Homo sapiens: one gene and its partner. The protein of the gene in region 1 interacts with the protein of each later gene in a pairwise test. Each region holds a gene or a part of one and is shown on either strand. Other genes may lie near its edges.

Region 1 (3,500 bases):
TCAGCATTTTGGGCAAAGTCATTCAACAAGTCTAGAAAGTTCCAAACTTTCCCACATTTTCCTGTCCTCTTCTGATCCCTTCAAACTGTTCCAACCTCTGCCTGTTACCCAGTTCCAAAGTTGCTTCCACATTTTCGGGTATCTTTTCAGGAGCACTCTACTCTACTGGTACCAATTTACTGTATTAATCTGTTTTCATGCTGCTGATAAAGACATACCTGAGACTGGGCAATTTACAAAATAAAGAGGTTTAATGGGCTTACAGTTCCACATGGCAGGAGAGGCCTCACAATCATGGCACAAGGTTAAAGGCATGTCTTCTCACATGGCGGCAGATAAGAGAAGAGAGTTTGTGCAGGGAAACTCCCGTTTTTAAAACCATCAGATCCCACAAGACCTATTCACTATCACAAGAACAGCACGAGAAAGGCCCACCCCCATGGTTCAATTACCTCCCACCAGGTTCTGCCAACCACACGTGGGAATTGTGGGAGTAACAATTCAAGATGAGATTTGAGTGGGGACACAGCCAAACCATATCAGTTACATTTATATAAAGTTCAAAAACAGGCAAAAATAGTTTATGGCGATAGAGGACAGAATAGTGATTACCTTTGAGAGGGAAAGAGACACTGATTGGAGGGGGCGCAAGAGAGCCTTTTCGAACACTAAAAATGTTCCACATCTGGATTTGAGTGATGACTACACAGATATCTACAAATATAAACATTCTATACATTTAAATTTGTGCAGTTTTCAATAAACATTTAAAGATACTTTCTCTAAACAAATTTTTAATTTTGTTTTTTTTAGACAGCGTCTCGCTCTGTCCCCCAAGCTAGAGTACAGTGGCGCGATCATAGCTCACTGCAGCCTCGACCTCTTGGACTCAAGCAATCCTCCCGCCAGCCTTGCAAGTAGCTAGGACTACAGACGCTCACAGCCAAACCTGGCTAATTTTTTTTTTTTACTTTTGTAAAGGCCGGCTCTTGCTATATTGCCCAGGCTGATCTCTAACTCCTACCCTCAAGGCATCCTCCCACCTCAGCCTCCCAAAGTGCAGGATTACAAGCATAAGCCACCATGCCCAGACTAAACAATTTTTTAAAAAAAAATTAGTAAGCTTTTTAGTTGGATCCACAACAGGAATTAATCAAAAGGAAAAAAAATGTAAAGCCTTATACACAAAGATCTTTATTGCAGAATTTACAATAGCAAAACACATACACACACCTGGAAATAACATTTAATAAATGAATGCCATGCCAACCCTGGATTTCTCTGGTGTGAGAGAAATTAATATTTGGCATCTGTCTGATACTAGTAGCCAAACTTAATGCTGATTAACCTAAAGGAGCCATCTGCCCTGAGGAAGAGCATGATCACAGACACCAAAGCAAAAAAGGGCTAAGCTATTCAAGGCTGAAAGAGGAAAGAGACAAAAGCAAGAGATGAAGTGAGACGTAGACAAAAGCCAAATCATGCAAGACCTCACAGGCCTTTTTTTTTTTTTTTTTTTTAAAGACTATAGCTAAGAAATGAAAAGAAAAAATAAAGTAACTGATTTCCTTGGGCAGCAGAATTACTGGGAGACAGGGGTTGTACACTAAATATTCTAAATGTTTCTAAAAATGAAAATATATTATTCAAGAGCATGTAGTACTTGCAAATGATCAAGCATTTCCAAAAAAAACTGCCCAGCCCTATTAAATTTATAAAATATTTCTGCGATACAGCTGGAATAATTACAAGGTACACAACATATTACAGTATTTGTTGTATCTATTATTTGAATTGATCTACACACTAACATATGAAAATACGTGCTAAAATTTTTGGAAGAAAAGGATGAATTTTTTTTTTTTTGAGATTAAGTCTCTCCTTGTCACCCAGGCTGGAGTGCAGTGGCATGATCTCGGCTCACTGCAACCTCTGGCTCCTGGGTTCAAATGATTCTCCTGCAGCAGCCTCCCAAGTAGCTGGGATTACAGGCATGCACCACCACGCCCAGCTAAATTTTGTATTATTAGTAGAGACAGGGTTTCACCATGTTGGCCAGGCTGGTCTCGAACTCCTGACCTCAAGCGATCCACCTGCCTCGGCCTCCCAATGGGATTACAGGCATGAGCCACTGCGCTGGGCCAGGATGATTCTTTTAAAAAAAAAAAAAAAAAAAAAACTTTTGAGAAACATCCATTCTTTTAAATATTTCCACATATTTTCACTGCTTGTTTTATTCAACTGGCTGTTTGAACAAAAGCAAAAATTATCCATACCATATTCATGTCCAATTCAGCAATCATTACTTACAATTTCAGGAATAGAAACAAGAGAATCAGTGTTTTAACAGGTTTTTTTAACTGATAATTTAAACAAATAGAAAAAGCAACTATTAACAACCAAAAAATAAATGAAAAACAGACCAAGAGAATAAGCATTCCTTTCCCTCCACAGAGAGATTTTACCTGATAGTCTTCTATGCTGTCTTACAGCATTCAACTATTGTTACGTACACATAAGAAAAATACGAAAGCAACCATACATGGTTTCTGTTACAGAAACTTTAGAGTTAAGAGGAAAAATAAACATGAAGAACAAACATATAAAAGCACTCTAACTCACCAAATGGAACAAATGATTTTTCTTTCTTTCTTTTTTTTCTTTTGAGACAATCTCGCTCTGTCACCCAGGCTAAAGTGCAGTGGCGGGATCTCACAACCCCGCAACCCCTGCCTCCCGGGTTTAAGTGATTCTCCTGTCTCAACCTCTTGAGTAGCTGAGATTACAGGCATTCGCCATCACACTCAGCTAATTTTTGTATTTAGTAGAGACAGGGTTTCACCATGTTGGCCAAGCTGGTCTCGAACTCCTGGGATCAAGTTATCCGCCCACCTCAGCCTCCCAAAGCGCTGGGATTACAGGAGTGAGCCATCAGGCCTAGCGGAACAAATAAAATTTTTTTTTTTTTGAGACAGAGTCTTGCTCTGTTACCCAGGCCGGAGTGGAATGGCATGATCTTGGCTCACTGTAACCTCTGCCTCTGGGGTTCAAGCCATTCTCCTGCCTCTGCCTCCCGGGTAGCTGGGACTACAGGCATGCACCACCACAGTGGGCTCATTTTTTTATATCTTTAGTAGAGATGGGGTTTCACCATGCCGGCCAGGCTGGTCTCAAACTCCTGGACTCAGGGGCTCCGCATGCCTCAGCCTCCCAAAGTGCTGGGATTACAGACGTGAGCCACCGCGCCCGGCCTCAACAAGATATTTTGTCTTGTCTTGCTCAACAAGAAGTGATGGTTCCTGACAGATGAACAAGAGGACAAAAAGTAGCAAAATGTGAAGGTGTTACAGTTCTAACACTCAAAAGAGAAAAAGAACATTACAGCTAGATCACTGCATTTAGTTATATGATAAGCCCTCCAGGTTTCCTCTAAATCATTACATTGTTCTGTATCCACATTCAAGGCCTCCAAAGATTAATTGGCATTATCAAGAGATTCG
Region 2 (4,260 bases), on another chromosome or scaffold:
GAGCCTCTAGGCCTTGATTGAGTGAGGTCTGTGCATGGGGTCTCGCAAATGTGTGTTGTGAGCAGTACAGCCTCCACAGTACTGTACTGCACACCCTTGTTGCACAGAGTGTGTGCGGAGAAGGGAACACATTTCCCCAACTTCCACTGCCCTCCATGAGGCCCTCTGCTTCCCTGGTCATCCTCATCAGCCTGGTTACCCTAGCAGTCACCCACTCACTCAGGACCTATATATAAGTATGATTGGCAATGGGATGACTATTTGTTTCCATGGTTCTCCAACCAAAAAGGTTATTCTGATAAGTTAGGATGCTGCTCAGACATTATCTAATTAGCACTGTGTCTGCATTGCAGAAAATAACTAACACTCAGCATTTTCACAAGATAATTTGGTCACATCCTGAATATTCAACTGGGTGAGTCAGAGGGAAGAAAAGACACACAAGGAAGTAGGAGCTTGATTTGGGTTAAGCTTGGAGGTACTACGTCCCACCTCTAGCCTCGCTGATGAAGAGAAAATCACAAGTAGGATCCCACAGTATTGGGGTGTTGCAAGAAATACAGAAGAGTTCTTGTCTCTTTGCATTTTTATCTATTTACTAAATCTAGCTGGTTAGCTTTAAAACATTCATGTCAAATTCTTTAAGTTTACAGGAAAATAGTCAAAGATTATTTTACCATGTTATAATTTGAGTCTTTGAGTATCACTCATTAGTATCAGCTGATTTGAAATGCTGCGGCTGCCTCTTGGTTTTCTCAAAAAATCTGTTTTTGGTGTTCCTTAAAAGACAATGTTGTCAGATCTCATAATTCAGCACATGTTTATTGAGAACCTCCTTTGTTAAGAGTGTTAAGTGCTAGATGCTTTCTGTTTGCTTGGTTCTTTTTAAAATAACTGAATTAGGTAGATGCTACTAATTTAAATAGACGTTGCTTGAAAGAAAAACAAATGAAGAGAGCAAGAGATTATCTGAAATATAATTGAATTTGTAAATACTTACTGGTGCTGCCCAGGTCACACTGAAAAGGAGTAGTCCCACACAGAAAACTCGCATCTTTGAGAATCTCTGTAAAAAGACAACAATATCTTACCACAAAGCATTGCCAGTTATAAACTGCAGCCATAAGAAGAGATAAAACACATAGGAATATATAAACACCCTTCCCCTTGGCAGTTCATATCCTTTTGTGTATGTGTGTGTATAGACTATGTATAACTTGCTTATACCCGAGTGTGGACATTTTAAGAACTTTCATATGTCTAGTTATTCCAATGTGAAAATGAAAATTATTCAATATCATTAAAACAGTAAAGTCAGTTGATAGAAATATATTTTATAGACACATTTATTTGCTCTATCATCAGCTCTTCTTCCTCTTGTCTTTAGAAAGAGATTGTTTAATTATTTGTGTAATTCAAAATGACATTAAGTTGATGTAGCAGCTCATAACACACTCTAAGTTTGTCAGGGTAGCAGATTGCACTGTGAGGAAAGCTTATCTGCCTCCGGGCTGGTGCCCTAATCTGTGTCTCATGTTCATTAGCAATGTGTCTGAATTAGTAGCCATCCATGGGCTGGAGAGTGAACTAATTTTTGCAACACTGACATTAATGGCTAACATTTATTGAATACTAAAATGAGCCAAGCACTGGGTCTAAGAATTTTGCATGCATTCAATTATTTGAGCCTCACAACAACCCTACAAGTTAGGCGGCGTTACTATGCCTGTTGTATAGATTAGGAAATAGACACAAAAAGATCAAATAACTTGCTTTAGAATTCACAAATATTAAGGGGCAGAACTGGGATTAGTATCCAGGCAATGTGGCTCTAGACCCAGTTTTCTTCATCAAGACTCTCTGCCACCTTAAATAACTTTCTATTCTTTTATCTTATTACAGAAAAATCCATGTACAGTTGACTTAAAGGCAAATCATATTTTATATTGGGCTCAACAAAATGATGTTCAAAATACTAACATTTAGTTACAAATAAAGGTATTTGTTTATATTTTGGTAAATATACCAACAGGAACTAGTGAGCTCACTTAAGTAGCCATTAGATTGGAAAAAAGTCAACATGTCTTTGGACTATTGATCTTATTATTATATTGTGAAAACAATAAATTTATGCCACTCTGAGATTTCTTGAAGAAAAACTTGTTTTTATGGGAAAAAATAATCTAAATATTCTTGCAATCTTTAAACACCTCAAGGAAAAGCTGGTATTTGGAGAAATGATTGTAACTATTAAATATATTCTAAAATCCTAGGCTATGTTTTTCTAAATTAATGCAATTAGAAGGATCTAAATTCTAACTATAGTTTACCCTTCCAAGCATTTTATAGATCAGGACAACGTAAGTAACTTATGAAATGAGTTAATGCTCATCAGTAGAAATATCAACACAGATGAGGTTTCAAAGTATGAATAAGATCAGATTTTCCTGATTGCAGTTTGTTAAGTGAAGGGATAGAAGAAAACTGAAGTCTGAGTTACTGTGGATCTTGATAATGCTAATAACAAAAAAAAAGAGAAAGTTGCTATCAAATCATCAATTTTAGTTGATGATTTCTAGAGCATGGTAACGCATTTCCTATTTTATAAAACAAAGCACCAAATATTACACAGTTTTGCTCAGTAGAGAAGATTTTCAAAAGTAATAAAACCATACTTGGGTGGCAAGCATCTTAAAAACGTAAACAACTATGATATAAAGCTATTTGCTGTCAAGAACATGAAAGCCAAATTACCTGGTATCTTTCACCTTCAGAATACCTGGCTTCTTGTTGCAGGATTAGAAGTCTCTGGGCATTTTGCTGAAATTTAAAGTTTGTTAGAGTTCCCAATGGCCAATCAGCACTGGCTCACTCAGCGCTAGCAAACAATTTGTTACAAGCGCCCACAGATAACCATAGGGGGTGAAGTAATTTTAATCTAAAAATGTGTTTGTGGTAGAAAGCTACTATCAAATGTTCCAGAAAGTGGGATAAACAGAAAATATAAATACCTCAGTTTGGACATCATGTTGTCAGATAATCAAAATTGATTTCAGAACTGCTAATTAGGACTGACTGAATACCTAACAAGTTTAGAAATGGAAAACATTTTTGCTATCCTTTTATGTAGAAAGTTTATGATGTCAATTTTATCTAAGTGAAATTCAGCAACATTTAACAAAAATGTTTTAGGTGCCTACTGTGTGACAGGCATTGGCGAAACTGCAGTGAACAAAACAAGACAGAAAAAAATCCCTGTCTTCCTGGAGCTTAGAATCCAATAAGGGAGACAGATAATAAACAAGATAAATGAGTTAAATAGATTAGATAGTGACATATACTAAGTCTAAGGAGAAAAAGTATTGTTGGGGAGTAACAAGCATTGGGGGTGGGGACACTGGGTTGAAATTTTAGATAGGAAGTCCTGGGAAGGCCTCAATGAGAAGGCAACTTTTGAGTAAAGACCTTGTTATGGTTTCAATGTACGTGTCCCTCCAAAATTCCCATGTTAGAACTTAAACCCAAGGTGACAGTATTGAGAGATGGGCTCTTTAGAAGGTGATTAAGTCATGAAGGCAGACCCCAGTATGAATGGGATTAATGACCTTATAAAAGGGCAAGAAGAAACTAGCTAGTCCCTTTTTGCCCTTCTGCTTGTCTGCAGTGTGAAGACACAGCATTTGTCCCCTCTGGAGATGCAGTAGCAAGGTGCCAAATTGGAAGAAGAGATAGACAGCCCTCGTCAGGCAATGAACATGCTGGCCTCTTCATTGCGGAATTCCCAGCCTCCAGAACTGTGTGAAATAAATTTCTGTTTTTTATAAATTACCCAGTCTGTGGTATTCTGTAGTAGCAGCATGAACAGACTCAGATAAGCCTGCAGCCATATGACTGTCTATGGGAAGACCATTCCAGGAAGAAGAAATAAGAAAAATAGTGCCCCAGAAATAAAAGCCTTGTGACTTGTTCCAGGAACAGAGAAGAGGCCACTTTGGTTGGAGGCCTGAGCAAGGGGAATAGCAACAAATGAGGTCAGAAGGGTATTAGATGGCAGATGGTATAGGACCTGTAGGTCATTGCAATGCTTTTGACATTGCTATGAGTGAGAAGAAAAGTCCTTGGAGGTTTTAAGCACAGGCATGATTGAGGAGTGACTGAAGTAGGAAAAAGGCAGAGAGAATGGCTAGGAAGCTCTTGTAATAATCCCAGCCAGAGATGATGGAGGCTTGAACCTGAGTGCGGCAGAAGGGATGATGAGAC

What was found.
Region 2: the proteins of NCK1 (region 1) and MEPE interact in binary tests that used the Homo sapiens proteins (3 or more experiments, as listed by UniProt).

The regions. Positions count from the first base shown.
Region 1 is NC_000003.12:136,868,708-136,872,207, reverse strand, and holds part of NCK1 (SH2/SH3 adapter protein NCK1), read right to left. Parts: intron 1-3,500. UniProt on the Homo sapiens protein: Adapter protein which associates with tyrosine-phosphorylated growth factor receptors, such as KDR and PDGFRB, or their cellular substrates. Maintains low levels of EIF2S1 phosphorylation by promoting its dephosphorylation by PP1.
Region 2 is NC_000004.12:87,831,509-87,835,768, reverse strand, and holds the start of MEPE (matrix extracellular phosphoglycoprotein isoform a precursor), read right to left. Parts: upstream 2,801-4,260; 5' UTR 2,755-2,800; intron 1,067-2,754; 5' UTR 1,055-1,066; coding exon 1,001-1,054; intron 1-1,000. UniProt on the Homo sapiens protein: Promotes renal phosphate excretion and inhibits intestinal phosphate absorption. Promotes bone mineralization by osteoblasts and cartilage mineralization by chondrocytes.